5 linked regions of the Homo sapiens genome follow. The protein of the gene in region 3 interacts with the protein of the main gene of each other region in a pairwise test. Each region holds a gene or a part of one and is shown on either strand. Other genes may lie near its edges.

Region 1 (3,519 bases), on a different chromosome or scaffold from region 3:
TCGATGGATTAAATTGTGGAAGGGCCAAACTAGAAAGAGCTGACCATTGAGGAAATTTTGTATGAATTCAGGTAGCAGATGATGGAAAAATGGACTAGAAAGTGGATAGAATTACCTATGCCTACTTTTACAGTAATATGACTAACTTCATATTGTGTTGTGTGGAAAAAAGTTAATACAAATAAACCACTTAAAATGTCTCTGGCATATAGTTAGTGATTCAGAAATATTATTTTGCAATTATGGTTATTTTTGTTATTACTAATACTATGAATTACTTAACATGTGTAAGTCACTTGAGATATTATTCCTCATTTAATAGAAACTAATTATTCAGCATTTCAAGATTATATTCTCTAACAAAGTCCTATGGTCTTCTATATGACAGATACCCTGTAGACTTGTTTAAAATAAGACATATCAGTTTTGACAGTAAGATGAGCAAAATGAAATTGTAAAATTCTACCACAAGTGACAAGGATCTTCATCAGTATTCTAACTTATAAGAAAATAATCCCTTACCGATATAAATGTGTGATTCTATTAGTATTTGCAGCCAGACCCAGTGTTCACTTGATTTTACTAAAGCATTTAAATCATTCTGCGTTGAGATCCCAGAGGTTTACATCTTAGCATAAACATACCCTATTAGAGCAGGTGTTTTCTGCCTTAAGACAAGCAACCCAGTAAAGCTTCCTGGGATAGCTTGTGTCTCAACATCATAAGTGCCTGAGAGAGAAGCACAGAAAAAATGAACAACGCATGTATAATAAAGACCAAATAATTTCTACCACTCGTATCTGAATCGTGCCCTCAGTTTACAATAATAAAAGAATTCTGTCATCATATAACATTATATTCTTTATGGAGGAATATAAGAATGTAATATATTTTAAATTGATATCACCCTTCTAAGAAATAGGTAGAAAGTAAGCATTTTTATTACATTATGTAATCTCTTAAGAGATAATTTTTGCCTACCTCCTTATTAACAGCAACATGAAACTGATATTTTATTCCATGGTTAAAATCCAATATCTATGTTGAATGCAAATTGTATGGGCTTTATATGGTAACTTTCTAAAGAGACAAAAGCTGAGATAAGACTAATGAAAATTCTGTCCCACCCTATCCTACTCTTGAAAGATTTCCCCACTCACATTAAGGGAAACTGACAGTGCCAGTAAGAGGGAGAAGAGAGTACGAGGTGTGGAAGGATAAGAAAAAGATTGAGTCGTAGTACATGTGATAATTACTAATACTAGCTGTTGTTACTAACTTGTAGAAAGCTTTGAATGCAAGTCAATGGTTGTGAAAGCCATTCTCTAATTGTTTATCATGTAAAATAACTGCAAACCCAATTTGCTTTCTATTCAATTAAATATTAGATTCTCAGATAATTTATGCATACTTTAAGAGAAAAGGACACTTGGCAAATGTATTAAGTATTAAAAATGCATATAGCCATTGGTTTTATAATATATTCACATGAAATCATACAGAGAAAAAATAAATCAAGATGTACATATTTAATATTTATGGAAAATATTCATAAAATAAACATCAAAAGTAATCAAACATCTGAAATTAAGGAATAATTAAAAACATATACTAGATGCATACTATAGCATTACAATAATTTTATCAATAAAATATTCAGTTACAGTCAGCTATAATACAAGTAAAGTGAGGTAGAAAATTATAAATATTACAGGCTGACACGTTTTTTGTAGGAGGAAAAGGTATATACAATCAGAATAAAATTGTCTAAATAAACGTCACAAGTGTACATTGAACTATAAAGATAGAACAAAAGCCATGATGAAAACATATGTAGTTTACAAGGTGACATCTCTCGACAAAAATTTTAGAAAAAAAATTATTTTCTTTTTAGAACTTGCACTACTTCTATAAAATACCTTACATACATAGTGTATTATTATTTTAAAGTTGTCACAGAATGGGAAACAACCAGTCCACATCAATAATGAATCCCCTTTAGGGATTATATTACTTTAACACTGGGTGGATGAAGGCGGCTCTGGACATCAAGCCACTGAAACAAAACACTGAACGTAAGTTACATCAAATGTGGCTACAGGTAACTGCAATTACGCACAATACCTGGATATCCTATGTATTACCTTGAATAGCAGAACAATGACTCTAACATCATTAACACTGATGTCTTAAGATTAAAAATCATATTTTAAAAAATGCTTAGCCATATGTGGTCTGCAAATAAACATTTGGAATCTTTTTTCTTTGTTTTGTAGAGAACACTTAAGAAAAAGTTTTACCCCAATGATTAAATCTGAAAGTATTTAAATTTCAAAATTGGCGTACATTGGGGAACACAGGTCAGAATGATTCCCAGTAAATTCCAGCCAAGTACATCTTCACTAAGATTTTTATGTAGTGTGGGTGATCTACTCAAGAGGGTGACCAAATCTCTGCAGAAAGTTCTGGCAGTCTCTCGCATTCTGGTGCAAGTGCTGCTGCCTCTGAGACACAGCAAAATGATGATGAGAATTCCTCACATGCAGTTATAAATAGCACATCAATTTAACAGTGTGATTTCAGGGAAAAATTGTTCCACTTAAACAATCACCTGAAAAATATAATCATTCGACTATGTAACTACATACTGTACGATTCTGTATTACAAATGAGAATACAGAATTATTTATAGAAATTTATAGAAATTCCAAACCACAACAGCAGACTCCATAATGTCAGTGATTCTTAACCACCACCTTTTACAGCTACTTTTTTTTCTCTTTTGAAAAAAGACTGGAAAACTCTGACAAACTTTAAGTGAAGTGTAAAGGATTATAGAATAAGATAAATGTAGGTTTACGTAATCCCAGCTGTGAGTAACTTTTCCTCAGTGCTCAGAGTCAGGGAAGTCAACCACTAATGACTTCAAACTAAAATAATTCTGTAGAAAACCTGCCTAAAATAAGCATATGTGATTTAGCGAGCAACAATATAGCATTAAAGCCAACTGGTGCCACTTTAAAGAACCTATATTAGTACTTATAATATGATAAGTGAAGAGTTTGGGTATCTCCTCAAATACTGTGTAATAACTCTATTTCATTTCTCCCTTTCACAAACGCACACACATACACACACACATATTTACACAAAGACCCTTAACAGAGGCAACCTATCTCATATTATACATATTGCAAAAAAAACTGAGTAATTGAGTCAGTTAAAAAACATCCTTTACTCCAATAATTCCTGATAAAACTTGATTTTCTCTCTTTTTATAACAATTCTTTCACAGTGCTTGCTGTGCTGATAATCTATTATGATAGAACAAATTCTTTTTTTTCACAGGAAATGGAAGAGTTTGTCCAGAGCTCTGGAGAAAATGGTGTTGTGGTGTTTTCTCTGGGGTCGATGGTCAGTAACACGTCAGAAGAAAGGGCCAATGTAATTGCATCAGCCCTTGCCAAGATCCCACAAAAGGTAAGATAAAATGTTTTAATGGTGTAAAAAACTACTGAA
Region 2 (3,519 bases), on a different chromosome or scaffold from region 3:
GAGTTCAAGATCAGCCTGGCCAACACGGTGAAACCCAATCTCTACTAAAAATACAAAAATTAGCCGGGCTTGGTGGTCTGCGCCTGTAATCCCAGCTACTCAGGAAGCTGAGGCAGGAGAATCACTTGAACCCAGGAGGCGGAGGTTGCAGTAAGCCCAGACTGTGCTATTGCACTCCAGTCTGGGTGATAAGAGTGAAACTCTGACTCAAAAAAAAAAAAAAAAAAAGTAGAATTTCACAGAGTGGAAGACAAAAAAGGAAACAACAACAGCAATGAATAGAAAATAGTTATAAATACGATAGATACTAAACATTATATCAATACTCATTTTAAATATGAATGGTCTAAATATAGCAATTAAAAGACAGACTGTCAGGGTGGATTAAAAAAAGATCTAACTGTATATTGCCCACAAGAAGCTCACTTTATGGCTTACACCTATAATCCCAGCACTTTGGGAGGCCAAGGCAGGCAGATCCCTTCAGGTCAGGAGATCAAGACCATCCTGGCCAACATGGTGAAACCCCATCTCTACTAAAAATACAAAAAATTAGCCAGGTGTGGTGGTGCATGCTTATAATCCCAGCTACTTGGGAGGCTGAGGCAGGAGGTTCACTTGAACCCGGGAGTTGGAGGTTGCAGTGAGCCGAGATTGTGCCACTGCACTCCAGCCAGGGTGACAGAGTGAGACTCTATCTCAAAAAAAAAAAAAAAAAAAAAAGAAAAAGAAACTCACTTTAAATATAAATATAAAAACAGATAGATTAAATGGATGGAGTAAGACATGCCATGCTAACATTAATCAAAAGAAAGTTGGAGTAGCTATTTTAATTTCAGACAGAGCAGACTTCTGAGTGAGGAATATGCAGGGATAAAGAGCATCATTACACAATAATAAGGAGGTCGATTATCCAAAGAGACATAACAATTCCTAATATATATGCTCCTAAAAACAAAGTGTCAAAAACCTAATAGAACTGCAAGGAGAAACAGGCAAATGCACTATTTGGAGACTTTAACATCCCCTCTATCAGTAATTGACAGGTCCAACAGTCAGAGAATCAGTAAGCATATAGTTGAACTGAGAAGCACCATCAACTGACTGGATCTAATTAACACATATACAATACTTCACCCCACAACAGCAGGATACACATTCTTCTTAAAAGATACCAGTAAGAAAATAGTAAGACAAACCATAGGCTGGGAGTAAATATTTGCAAATCATATATCTGATAAAGGACTATTATCCAAAATATATAAAGAACTCTTATAGTTCAATAAGAAGATGAACAATTGAATTTAAAAATTGGCAAAAGACTTGAAAAGACCTCTCTCCAAAGAAGGCTTATGAATAGCTAACAAGTATACTAATGATTAGGAAAATACAAATTAAAACCACGGTGAGATACCATTAGACAGCCACAAGAATGGCTATAATCAAAAGGACAGACAATATTCAATGTTGGCAAGTATGTGGAAAAACTGAAACCTTCATATGCTGCTGGTGGCAATGTAACAAGGTGCAGCCACTTTGGAAAATAATTGGCAGTTTCTTACACTTACCAGAAAACCCAGAATTCCACAATGAGAAATCCATCCAAGAGAAATGAAAAGATATGTCCACACAAAACTTATATGTGAATGTTTATAGAAGCATTTCCACAATAGCCAAAAATGGGACATCCAAATGTACATCAACTGGTCAATCAATAATTAGCTATTGTACGATTTTCTTACGCAAAATGGCCAGAAAAGACAAATTTATAGAAAAAGATGCTGGAAGTGGGAGCAGGGATTGGCTGCAAACAAACTTTTGGGGATGATGGAAATGTAAAACTGGATGGTGCTGATGGTTGCCTGACCATAAAAATTTACTAAAAATCATTTAGTTGTTCACCTGCAATGGGTGAATTTTGTGCAGTAGTATATAAATTAATCTTGTGTGTGTGTGTGTGTGTGTGTGTTTGTGTGTTTGAGACAAGGTCTCGCTCTGTTCCCCAGGCTACAGTGCAGTGGTGTGATCATGGCTCACTGCAGCCTTGACCTCCCAGACTCAAGTGATCCTCTCGCCTTAGCCTCCCTAGTAGCTGGGACTACAGGCCTGTGCTACTATGCCTGACTAATGTTTTTTATTTTTTTGTAGAGACGGGTTCTCACTACATTGCCCAGGCTGGTCTCAAACTCCTGGCTCAAACAGTCCTCTTGCCTCAGCCTCCCAAAGTGCTGGGATTACAGGAACGAGCCACTGTACCCAGCCCTGTAAATTACATCTTAATTTTTTTTTTTTTTGAGACAAGATCTCAGTATTTGAGATTAGCCCAGGTTAGTCTCAAATTTTTGGGTTCAAGTGATCCCCACACTTCAGCCTCTGGAGTAGCCTGGATTACAGGTGCATGCCATAGCCCCTGGCTTATAAATTTATTTCAAAGGTGAAAACGGACATTCTTGGGCCCCACCCTAGAATATCGATTTGAAATTTCTAGACATAAAGCTTAAGAATATGCATTTTAACAAGTTTACTGGATGATTCTCTTGTACAAAGAAAAGGCTTAGGGTAACCCTACCCCCTACCCAGGAGTCAATCATGTTCTGACTGATTTTAAATTAATTTTAAATTAGAAAATTCAGGTAAGAAATGCAAGAATTTGTTTAAATTAGGAGCTTCCCAAACTGGTATTAAGGGAAATCTCTTCTGAGAGTTGTAAATAGGTAAACTGAGTACAAAGTCTCCCTTTGCACAAAAAAAGGTTGCTTTAATTGTTAAAGTCAAGCAGGTTTCTTTTCTGTGTTCTTCTTTTCTTTTGGCTGGAATTTCCATATTTTCAATATGCTAATGTTTGTTTTGATTTGTCAACTGAGAGACAAAAATATGGAAGACACAAAATTTCCAAAGTTTATTTGATCACGGAACGTCCCCCCTCTGTGAGGGTGGGACTTCTTTGCCACGGAAAAGCCATCTTAGGACATTGTTATTTTGAGGCTGTTACTTATAATAGCTTATGTATGTATATCCTTCTTACCATATTACCATACCGCCTGAACAAATGTCCAGGTAAACCATTCAATTTAAGCATACATTCATTTTATTCCAAATTCACTGCCCTATATAAAAGTTCTCTCTACCACTATAAAACGCAGCTCAGGAATAGGGTCCTAAAGTATATTGTGGGATTCACACAAGTGTGGGCCGGCCCAGTGCAGGACCAAGATTGACACAGGAAATCACACTCACCTGTCCACAATGATACCATGAGGGATGAGGACATACTCCAAGTCTCCATAATAGTGCTGTGGGTACGTGAATAAATTCAAGTCATACCCTGGCCAATCATCCATAATCTGCAAATCAAATTATTTTGGTTATGGTATTTTTTCATCAGAAATTTGTTTAAAACATAACAAAAGAGTATCACTTGAGAGGAGAATTCCCTCAACTTATGAAAAGTTTAGTGGAACAAGGTTATTTGTTTCCACAACCTGATACAAGGCGCAGTACTAAAGTGAACAGAGCACT
Region 3 (3,519 bases):
TTCAGGAGAATCGCTTGAACCCAGGAGGGGGATGTTGCAGTGAGCCGAGATTGCGCCACTGCACTCTAGCCTTGGCAACACAGCGAGACTCCGTTTCAAAAAAAAAAAAAATAGAGAGAGAGGGGTAGAAACCAGGTCACAAAGGGAGGGAGCACATGGATGAAGAGGAACAAGTCCTCAGAGGCTTTCCAATGAACTGTTCTCAGAATAAAATCCAAACCCCTTCCCATGGTGTCTGCTGGCCATAGCCCTGCCTACCTCCAACCCCAGCTCGCTGGGAATGTGTGCTTTCTGTTTCTGTTCCTTGAACACACAGGCATGTTCCTGCCCTGGGGCCCTTGCACTTATTGTTCCAACAGTCTGGAACATTCTGGCATCAGATCCTCCTGAGGCAAAGCACTTTAACTGGTACCATTGCAGAGGGGTCATCTCTGACGAGCCAATTCACAGTAGTCCTATCTAAAAGTGTGTTGTTCTTGTATTTGCTTACATGTTTCTGTCTGTCTCCCTGCACAAGGATGTGAGGTTCCCAAGGGCTAGGACCTTGCCTTTCCTGTGAACTACAGAATCCCCAAGCCCTAGAATGCCAGGGGTGTTCAGGAACAGTTGTATGGTTGGAGGAAGGAATGAGCTCCCAGACCATGACAGCACCAGCACCATGGACATGGATTTGTCAATGAGGCTGAAGTCATTTTTAGGTTTGCAGATAGCTCTGTGATGGCAACAAGTCAGGGACACAGGGGCTGTGCTGGAAGACCCTTTGTGACCTGGTTTCTAACCCCTATTTTTTTTTTTTTTATACAGAGTCTCGCTCTGTTGCCCAGGCTGGAGTGAAGTGGTGCAATCTCAGCTCACTGCAACATCCCCCTCCTGGGTTCAAGCAATTCTCCTGCCTCAGCCGCCCGAGTAGCTAGGATTACAGGCGCCCGCCACCACGCCTAGCTAATTTTTGTATTTTTTAGTAGAGACTGGGTTTCACCATGTTGGCCAGGCTGGTCTCGAACTTCTGACGTCAGGTGATCCGCCCACCTTGGCCTCCCAAAGTGCTGGGATTACAGATGTGAGCCACCACGCCTGGCCCTCTCTATCTATTTTTATCCATGGCAACTCCCCACTTGGTTCCTTCTCCCCAGTTACACTGACCACTTACAAGTCTTCCAATGTGATAAGAAGATTCATGCCCTCCTGCTCTCGCAGCTGCTGTCTTTTCATTAGAAAATTCATCCCTCCTCTCCTGCCTTTCTCCACTGTAGCTCAGACATGCCTGTCCACAGGACGCTCCCCTGCCAGCCTGCCCCAATCTGAGTTGGGTGCTTTTTCCACCTAGGCCCCCTTAGCACTCAGCTCATCTCTAGAGAATCCATCACTGCCAGAATTCCTTCCAGGCAAGAACCAGGCCTTTATGTGTTTCTCTGATGATAGCCCAGCATCGGACACACAGTAAGACCTCAATAAATGTCTACTGAGTAAATCCTGAAATCCATGTCCACAACAATAAATACGTAATAGGCCGGGCGTGGTGGCTCATGCCTGTAATCCCAGCACTTCGGGAGGCCGAGGCAGGTGGATCACTTGAAGTCAGGAATTCGAGACCAGCCTGGCCAACAGGGTGAAACCCTGTCTCTACTAAAAATACAAAAATTAGCCGGGCATGGTGGTGGGCCCCTGTAATCCTAGCTACTTGGGAGGCTGAGGCATGAGAATCTCTTGAACCCAAGGGGTGGAGGTTGCAGTGAGCCGAGATCACGCCACTGCACTCCAGCCTAGATGATAGAGTGAGACTCAGTCTCAAAAATAAATAAACAAACAAACAAATAAAGAAAGAAATAATAAATATGACCTGTGCTCCGGTCACTGTTCTAAGATTTCTGTCACGTCATGTTGTGAAATTCATTTTGCTCTATTGCAGATAGTACAGCACTGTGCCATTGTCCATGTAGATGCCCAGTGCCTTTATTATTTCAGAACTGGGGAGATGTGTCCCTGTTACCCCTCCCTGGGCCTCACTTCTCTGAGCCTGCCTGTGTTAGTTCTTCTGACACAGATAGGTATGATTGCTATCTCCATTTTACAAGAGTAGGAACAGGCCGGGCACGGTGGCTCACGCCTGTAATCCCAACACTTTGGGAGGCCGAGGCGGGTGGATCATGAGGTCAGGAGTTCAAGACCAGCCTGGCCAACATAGTGAAACCACGTCTCTACTAAAAATACAAAAAAAATTAGCCGGGCATGGTGGTGGGCACCTGTAATCCCAGCTACTCGGGAGGCTGAGGCAAGAGAATTGCTTGAACCTGGGAGGCAGAGGTTGCAGTGAGCAGAGATCACATCACTGCACTCCAGCCTGGGCAACAGAGCAAGACTGCATCTCGGGGGGGAAAAAACAGTAGGCGCCAAGCGTGGTGGCTCACGCCTGTAACCCCAGTACTTTGGGAGGCCGAGGTGGGCGGATCACGAGGTCAGGTTGAGACCATCCTGGCTAACACAGTGAAACCCCATCTCTGCTAAAAATACAAAAAATTAACCGGGCATGGTGGTGGGCGCCTGTAGCCCCAGCTACTCGGGAGGCTGAGGCAGGAGAATGGTGTGAACCTGGAAGGCAGAGCTTGCAGTGAGCCGAGATCACGCCACTGCACTGCAGCCTGGGTGACAGAGCAAGAATCCGTCTCAAAAAAAAGAAAAAAGAAAAAAGAAAAAAAAACAGGAACAGAGGCTCAGAGAGATTAAGCAACTTGCTCAAGTCACACAGCTAGTAAGTGGTAGAGCCAGGGACTGGATCCAGGGGGTCACTCCACCCCGGCGTGCAATGCTGCCACCTCTTACACTTGCCCACGTCCCTCATCTTCTTGGTGCTCTCCTCGTGCTGCTGTTTTATATAAACACAGTTGTTTCTGGAGAGAAAGGCATATGGAGGGACTTCTCAACACTCCTCCCCATCCCCAAGGGACACTCACATTGTTGGCTTCTCGGACCAGCCTCTGTTCATTGTACAGAATGTGCCGGATGCAGCGGACCAGCTCCAGGGGGCAGCGGTCATATGTTTTCTGAAAGAATCCAACAGTAGCCTCCAGCGCCATCCTCTGCTCCAGCCATGCCAGCCCCATGCTATGCCCAGCCCTTCCTCTCCTTCAGCCTCTGCCTCAGCTTTTCCCAGGGAGCCTCAGGAACTATCCCCAGACACCTCTATATCTCTGTTCCTCATCCTCATCTTCCCCTCCAAGATCTTCATATCTGGTTTGGAGCGAATTAAAAACCCACAGTTTATGAGGCACTTTCTCTTTTTTTTTTTTTTCTTTTTGAGATGGAGTTTTGCTCTTGTTGCCTAGGCTAAAGGTGCAATGGTGTGATCTCAGCTCACTGCAACCTCCACCTCCCGGGTTCAAGCGATTCTCCTTCCTCAGCCTCCTGAGTAGTTGGGATTACAGGCATGTGCCATCACGCTCGGCTAATTTTGTATTTTTAGTAGAGGCGGGGTTTCTCCACGTTGGTCAGGCTGGTCTCGAACTCCCGACCTCAGGTGAT
Region 4 (3,519 bases), on a different chromosome or scaffold from region 3:
CTTTAACTGAAACTGTGCTTCTCCCCACAGCCCCTTGTTCATATATGCACATCTCTTGCCCTCAGTGGAGGGGATTTGACGGTGGTGTTCGCATTTCTCTATGTTCCTGACTCTCTTGCAGATCATTGCTGAAGGTGCCAATGGGCCAACAACTCCAGAAGCTGACAAGATCTTCCTGGAGAGAAACATTATGGTTATTCCAGTAAGTCATCTATATTTATTAGGCTTTATATGTACTTAGAATCATAATAGTCTTTTGCAAGGAATTTGGAGGAAGAGAGGAATTATTAGTCTCCAAGCTCTAGTGAATTCATCTTTTTCACTTTTGAGAAAATATAGTAGAAGCATGGTTAATTCTAAGCCTGTTAATTTTCACTTTGATCGAAACATTTATTCCAATTTCAGGCTCTTTACTGAATGTCTTTAGCCTTCTAAGAGTCTGGTTATATAAATGTGTACTGTGTTAGAAACACTATTCTAACTAAAGCTCTTAAGATTTTCTATATGATTCCTAACCTTATGCATTTCAAGTGCCCTTTCCAGCTTTACTCAGAAAACTAATATGAGGAACACGTGCTCAGGTTTTTTAGCAAGTAAAAATGAGTCTACACCAAAAAGTTACTAGAAATTAATGTGGGCTTGGAATATATTTTAAAGAACCCCCTTTGCTGAAAGCACTTAAGACATTTAATGTAACTGAAATGGGCTACCCTTAGGTAATAGGAGAAAGAATCCTGTCTTCTGAGAGGCCCTGTGGACAGTCCAGTCCAACTGGTTGGTGGGCAAGCCATTTAGTCTGAGAACTAACTTCTGGTAGAGAAGAGGCTCCAACCAAAGATTATTAACTTTCCTTGATTAATAAGCCAAAAAATGATTTTTTTTTTTTCCTAAATAGAAAAAGCCTTAGATGGAATTGGGTGGGATGGGAAGGAGTGTTAATTAAGTGTGAAATTCCTGATACTGGCTAAAATATATTTGCGATATTTAAAGTCCAGTCTACCTTGGTATTGAAATTAAGGTCTTAGGTTCATTTTCAGCTTTTACGAAAACCATCATCTTCTAATTTCTTTGTCTTATTTTTGTGCATAGGATCTCTACTTGAATGCTGGAGGAGTGACAGTATCTTACTTTGAGTGGCTGAAGAATCTAAATCATGTCAGCTATGGCCGTTTGACCTTCAAATATGAAAGGGATTCTAACTACCACTTGCTCAGTGAGTATCGATAATCTTGTTCGCCAAAACTCATCTTTTGAGCCAGCTGAAAGGCTGTAAAAAGGTCCACTTAAGAGAACTGATCCCTTTGGGAAAGAATTGAGTCTCAGAAAAGAAAATAATATTTTGTCTCATGAAACTTAGACCAAAAATGCACAATGTCTTTCTGGATATTAACTCTCCCATATATTATATCCAGAGTTTTATTCTGTGATGTAATATTCACAGAATATAATCTACATTTTTTTTTTCTTTTTTTGAGAGGGAGTCTCGCTCCGTCGCCGAGGCTGGAGTGCAGTGGCACGAACTCGGCTTACTGTAGCCTCCGCCTCCCAGGTTCAAGCAATTCTCCTGCCTCACCCTCCCAAGTAGCTGGGGCTACAGGCACTCACCGCCACGCCCGGCTAATTTTTGTATTTTTAATAGAGACGGGGTTTCACCATGTTGGCCAGGATAGCCTTGATCTCCTGACCTCATGATCCGCCTGCCTCAGCCTCCCAAAGTGCTGGGATTACAGGCGTGAGCCACTGTGCCCAGCCAATAATATTTTTTTAAGTGTGATTTTAAAACTCCACTGTCGATACTAATTTCTGTCTCTGGTTGCTCTTAGTAAAGGCCTATCTAGTGTCAAGAATTGTTTTTGAGACTCCTGATGAGAATACTTGTTTTTCTTTGACTAGAGTAAGCTCCACAGTTAAGAGTAGAATTTCTCATCTAGTTGAAATAAGACCAAGACCTCCTACTGAGCTTCTGTACTCAGCCCACTGTGAGAATCTGGGTGAAGTGTTCCATCTATTTCCTTTTCTTTTTCCCCCAGCGTTTTCTTTTTAATAGAGCCAAGGAAAAACCCTGGTAATGGGTGTTATGGAAACAGAGCAGTGACCTAAATTCACATTTATATAGGAAATTGGCAATGTGTTTTATTCCTTCCTGACTGAGTTTTAAATGATTAACCCTTTTATGTCATTAAAACTCTGTATAAGGCCAGGCGCAGTGGCTCACGCCTGTAATCCCAGCACTTTGGGAGGCCAAGGCAGATGAATCACGAGGTCAGGAGGTCGAGACCATCCTGGCTAACACGGTGAAACCCCGTCTCTACTAAAAATACAAAAAATTAGCTGGGCGTGGTGGCGCGCACCTGTAGTCCCAGCTACTCGCAAGGCTGAGGCAGGAGAATGGCGTGAACCCGGGAGGCAGAGTTTGCAGTGAGCTGAGATCACGCCTCTACACTCCAGCCTGGGTGACAGACCACGACTCTGTCTGTATAAGTTTTTGGGTTACAGTTATAGTTTGGGACTACTTTTGATTCTACTTTTTTTTTTTTTTTTCTGTTAGCAATATCTTGATCTCTTGTTATTTTTTTGTAGTGTCTGTTCAAGAGAGTTTAGAAAGAAAATTTGGAAAGCATGGTGGAACTATTCCCATTGTACCCACGGCAGAGTTCCAAGACAGGATATCGGTGAGTGTGGTGACCCCACAGTTGTACTTCACACATGCTCCCTGCTCTTTCCTTCAGACAGAGCTGGTTAGATGGATTTCATCTGCGGCATAGTCTTTGTAATTAGCTTGACAGTAAGTGCGTGACATGTGTGTTTTGTACCTTTCCTTTTCATTACATTCTAAAACTGGAGTAAGAATCCTACTGACTACTAACAAATATAAAATAAATAAATTTGGTATTTTTCACGCACGTGTTTTAACAGTGAAGGATTATTATGTATTTTAATTATTTTAAGCTTCAGAGAAATAGGAAGAATTGAAAAGCAAGCATTAGATTGAACTATATGGGAGTCCAAGAGTTTGAGACCAACCTGGGGAACATAGTGAGTCCCCATCTCTACAAAAATAAAGAAAGAAACAAGAGGCCAGGCATGGTGGCACACGCCTGTAATCCCAGCACTTTGGGAGGTCAAGGCGGGTGGATCACGAAGTCAAGTCATCGACACCATCCTGGCCAACATGGTGACCCCGTCTCTACTAAAAATACAAAAATTAGCCAGGCGTGGTGCTACACGCCTATAGTCCCAGCTACTTGGGAGGCTAAGGCAGGAGAATCACTTGAACCCGGGAGGTGGAGGTTGCAGTTAGCCGAGATTGCACCACTGCACTCTAGCCTGAGCAACAGAGAGATACTCCGTTCCCGCCGCCGCCACCCCCCTCCCCCCGCCAAAAAAAAGAAAGGAGGGATGGAGGGAGGGAAACTTCTTTACCAGTAAATGATGGAAGACAGGAAAAACAAAAGTCCATAACACATAAGCCTGGGGGAAAAATTTAACCTCATTGTTAAAGAAATACAAATTGAAAAA
Region 5 (4,006 bases), on a different chromosome or scaffold from region 3:
AAGTTTTCTTCAAAAATGTGACATGATTTGAGGTCAAACATTAATATCAAGTAAACTCAAAAGATTGAGAAGCTAGCATTAGTTCTGGGAAAACCAGAAGTGTGCCTTTTTTGGAAATAATCATTGGTAGCACAAACTTAAGAATCTCCAAAGGAAATAAAAATGAGTTATTAACTTACAGTTTTCACCAATTAAGATATAAATGAAGCTAACGAAATCCGGAAATACAATTTCACTGTTTTTAATGTTCATTAAAAAAAAATCCTTATCAAATAGCCCCAGTAAGTCACCAATTAAGTCTTTACTACTTAAAAGCAAAATCCACCTATGTCCTGAACAGTATCCACTTTACGAGCCTCATTATATGTACGAGATAAAATTCAGAAATAAATAAATATACATGTATACGTATACAAATATATTTCAAATTAAAAAATACTTTTAGATAGTGGTATGTATTACATTTAGAAATTAATAACGAAGTAAATTATGGGATGTCATCCACGCCTGTCCCAAAGGTACCGAATTTATAAATCATCTCAGGTGCGGAGCAGGACAGGTTGAAAATAGGAATGACATGAACCCGCGCGGAACAGCTGCCGGCGCGGTGTCCAGGGCGGCACCCCGCCCGGTCCCGGCCCCTCCAGCCCTGGGCCCGACCCCTACTACGCCTCTGCCTCGACGCGAACGCGGAGCCCGAGCGCGCGTCACGCCGTGTGGGGCCGAAGAGGCTGCTACCCAGAGGCGGAGTGCGGGCTCGCGAGGGTCCCCACCCGACTCTCGCTCCCGCCAGCACCTACGGACTCGCGTCCCCGCCGCGCGCCGACTCGGGAGCAGCACCGCCCCCGGCACAGGAGCCTCACGCGCCTCTTACCTAACAGGAAGTTGGGTGGAAGCAGCGCGGACCCACGGCACACCGAACGCACTCCAACAGAACCCGACGCAGACACGCGCTTTCAACCGGCGGAGACACTGGCAGGGCCAGAAACGCGCGCAGCGGGGGCGGGAGGTCGGTAAGCTCCCCGCCCCTGCCCGAGACCCCGCCCCGGCCCGGCCCCGCCTTTTTCTCTGCCTCCCCTCCCTGCACGTACGGGCCCCGCCCCTCGCGCGACGTTTTTTGTTGACCCGGAAACGGATTCTCCGGAGCCGAGGTCCGCTCGGGTGAGTGCCCTCCGCTTTTTGTGGCCAAACCCAGCCACGCAGTTCCCTTCCTGCGGCGTCCTCCACACCCGGGGTCTGCTGGTCTCCGCGGATGTCACAGGCTCGGCAACCGCCCTCCTGTCGGCGGGGAGTCCCGCGACGCCCGGAAATGCTCCGAAGCCTGTCGCCCAGCTGCCAGATCTGCGTCTGTGTCCGGTTCCGTCACTGAGGTCGCCCCTGTCCGGCCCTTCCACCCTAGTTCTCTTCACCGTCCGCCCATCCTATCGCGCGCGGCCTCAGGTCCCGATTCGGCATGTGGCTTGTCTTCCATCGTCCCCACCCTCGCCCCTCTTGGCCCCTCAGGGCAGCCCTGGGATTCGGCAGACGCCAGTCCTCCCTGAGATGCTTCCCCATCCTTCCCTCCGCCAGGCCCTACGTCTCCGCAAACCCCACGCTTCGGGGTGGCCGCCTCAGACAGGACCCTGAGTCCGAGACTGGGGTAGGGGACCTGCCCGATCCTGTAACAACCCTCGTGCTTCTGCACAATCGCCTCCCACTAGCGGTGACTGTTGGGTGTTTACCTTCCCGGTGTCCCACTGAGAAGCGGGCTCTTCCTTGGCAGGGGCTTCTTCATTGCCTCGCTGTGGATGTCGAGGTGGGGCAGGAGAGTGAGGAGAAAACAGAGGAGGGAGGTAGAGCCAACGAGCGAGAAAAGGGGAGGGAAGTTTAGATGGGAAGTGGATGGGTCTGAGGAATTTGAACAAACACCGACAATGAAGGAGAGTGACCTGAGCAAGTAGTAGTGGGGTAAATGGAAATAGACAAAATGGGAATCAGCAGAGATATGGAGGACAGAATACAATGAGGAGGCCTTGACCGTCAGTAGCAGAGAGGGCAGCAGAAGCCTAATTCCCAAATTCTTTAGATGGTTTTCTGATTTCCAAATTAGTTTCCCTTTTAAATTTATTGTGTCAGGTTCAGCTTATGAGGCCTCAATACTTTTCAGTCTTAATTGTATATTGAAAATACTTTTTGTTTACTAAATGCTTTTTACATTAATTCAGTGTGCACTTCGTAAGGATAATGATGATTTGAGTTAGTTTAGTATTCAACAGCTTCCTCTATTCCTTTATATGATCTCTGTATTTAATGGCTGTGGCATAAAGTTTCCAACTAAGTTTAAGTATCAAGTTTTCTTTGTGCTGTTTTCTGCAAATATTGAAGGATGACCTGGATTGTCCTAGAACTTTGTTCCAACAGATTACATGTGTTCATAATGAATAGACTGCTCAAAGATATTTCCAAAGCTCACCTTTTATGTTTTTCAGTTCCAATAATTACATCTTTTTAAGGTTTATATTTTTTGATGACTTAATGTGATGTTCTGGAGAAGACAAATGCTTTTAATCAATATGATTAAAACCGTGAAAGACAAATCGCTGTTACTTAAGAGTGTGACATATGATCTGAAATCTTTAGGGGGCAGGGATGTTAAGGGAAAACTGCCACTATCGTATTAAGGTCATGCCATTCCTGTGAAGCTGGTGCTTGTTACTCTCTACTGGCTTCTGTTCACCTTTCCACCGGCCCCAAGACACACACATAGTGACACAAGGCAGTGGACAGGGAAAGAGCAAGACTTTATAAAGTAAGCACACAACAAAGGTATCTTTCTAATGAGGAGGAGGTGTTGGTTCTGGGAAGGAAGCTTGGGATTTGGGTATTCAGGATCCAGAAGTGAGAGAGCCTGGGAAGTTCAGGAACCAGAGAAAGAAAAAGCCTTGCCCATTCTCACCCATGACACTGTGCTCAGCAGGTACTAGCAGACTTCAGGCTCTGTGACTAAAAGGGGTCAGACCAGTTGATATACCCACAGCTGCCATGTAAGGATGTGTGTGGACTTCACTAGGGAAGAACGGTGTTATGAAAGAAGGGGCAGAAAAACTCACCTGTTGGTCTGCATGTAGAGGTTTATTGTCCTGAATTCCTGGAGGTTCAGTGAAAAGCAGAAGATTGTCTTTTACACATGTTGAGTTATGCCCCCATATATGTGGTTGTGGTAAAGAAAGAGGGTGTGTTGATGAGAGGTCCTGAAATGCATTTTCCTAATACTCAGCAGGGGCTTCTCAAGAAGGATCTTCCCTAAGAAAGAAGCTCAGAGAACAAAAATGGAAAAGGATTAGATATGGCACTTTCACTGGAAAAAGTCATGTTATTCATTGATTGTTTTGTCATCTCCCGCCTTAAGTGTTGTTTTTAGGATGTGGTAATCTCTGACCCTGCCTAACACATTTCCCAACTCACCCATAGCCTTCCCTTAACGTCCTCCCATCTTCACGCTATCACACTGTGACCCAGTGAATTCGAACTTGTGAAGTTCCATTCGGGGGATCATATGGGAAGGGCTTCACACCCAGACATAGATTATAGATGGGAAGTGGGCCACATGGTGTCAGTGAGGCAAGTATGGGTCGTTTAGGGACAATGCACTGTCAGATCTTTGTTGACCATGATTAGAGAAACTGTGCATATTAGTAGTGAATTAATGTCAGGAATATCTGACAAATCCTGGAAAAGAAGATTGATGAGAGGAAATGTGTTCTGCCCAACTGTATAATGCATTTGAAGCTTAAAACAATGAATCAGTATTGATCTGGCCACAAAATATTAATGATTTGAATTAAAAAGAAAAGTTTAGAAAATGATAGCTTTGACAAATTAAGGTAGCATTTCATCCACACGATGGAGTGTGTTTTATTCAGTAATTGATTTAAAAATGGAATCAACCTAAGTGTCTAACAGGAGGGAGTTTTATAAATTGTTCACAGAACATCTGTTCCAAGGAGACCTTGATGTTCATAGATTT

The links.
Region 1: the proteins of STAT5A (region 3) and UGT2B4 interact in a two-hybrid assay, tested with the Homo sapiens proteins (one large-scale study listed by BioGRID and IntAct).
Region 2: the proteins of STAT5A (region 3) and PRTFDC1 interact in a two-hybrid assay, tested with the Homo sapiens proteins (one large-scale study listed by BioGRID and IntAct).
Region 4: the proteins of STAT5A (region 3) and GLUD1 interact in a two-hybrid assay, tested with the Homo sapiens proteins (one large-scale study listed by BioGRID and IntAct).
Region 5: the proteins of STAT5A (region 3) and ZNF596 interact in a two-hybrid assay, tested with the Homo sapiens proteins (one large-scale study listed by BioGRID and IntAct).

Annotation. Positions count from the first base shown.
Region 1 is NC_000004.12:69,489,400-69,492,918, reverse strand, and holds part of UGT2B4 (UDP-glucuronosyltransferase 2B4 isoform 1 precursor), read left to right. Parts: intron 1-3,348; coding exon 3,349-3,480; intron 3,481-3,519.
Region 2 is NC_000010.11:24,939,093-24,942,611, forward strand, and holds part of PRTFDC1 (phosphoribosyltransferase domain-containing protein 1), read right to left. Parts: intron 3,345-3,519; coding exon 3,238-3,344; intron 1-3,237. UniProt on the Homo sapiens protein: Has low, barely detectable phosphoribosyltransferase activity (in vitro). Binds GMP, IMP and alpha-D-5-phosphoribosyl 1-pyrophosphate (PRPP). Is not expected to contribute to purine metabolism or GMP salvage.
Region 3 is NC_000017.11:42,291,494-42,295,012, reverse strand, and holds part of STAT5A (signal transducer and activator of transcription 5A), read right to left. Parts: intron 3,042-3,519; coding exon 2,952-3,041; intron 1-2,951. UniProt on the Homo sapiens protein: Carries out a dual function: signal transduction and activation of transcription. Mediates cellular responses to the cytokine KITLG/SCF and other growth factors. Mediates cellular responses to ERBB4.
Region 4 is NC_000010.11:87,056,844-87,060,362, reverse strand, and holds part of GLUD1 (glutamate dehydrogenase 1, mitochondrial isoform a precursor), read left to right. Parts: intron 1-121; coding exon 122-202; intron 203-1,089; coding exon 1,090-1,213; intron 1,214-2,580; coding exon 2,581-2,672; intron 2,673-3,519. UniProt on the Homo sapiens protein: Mitochondrial glutamate dehydrogenase that catalyzes the conversion of L-glutamate into alpha-ketoglutarate. Plays a key role in glutamine anaplerosis by producing alpha-ketoglutarate, an important intermediate in the tricarboxylic acid cycle.
Region 5 is NC_000008.11:231,255-235,260, forward strand, and holds the start of ZNF596 (zinc finger protein 596), read left to right. Parts: upstream 1-1,201; 5' UTR 1,202-1,440; exon of another isoform or gene 1,441-4,006. UniProt on the Homo sapiens protein: May be involved in transcriptional regulation.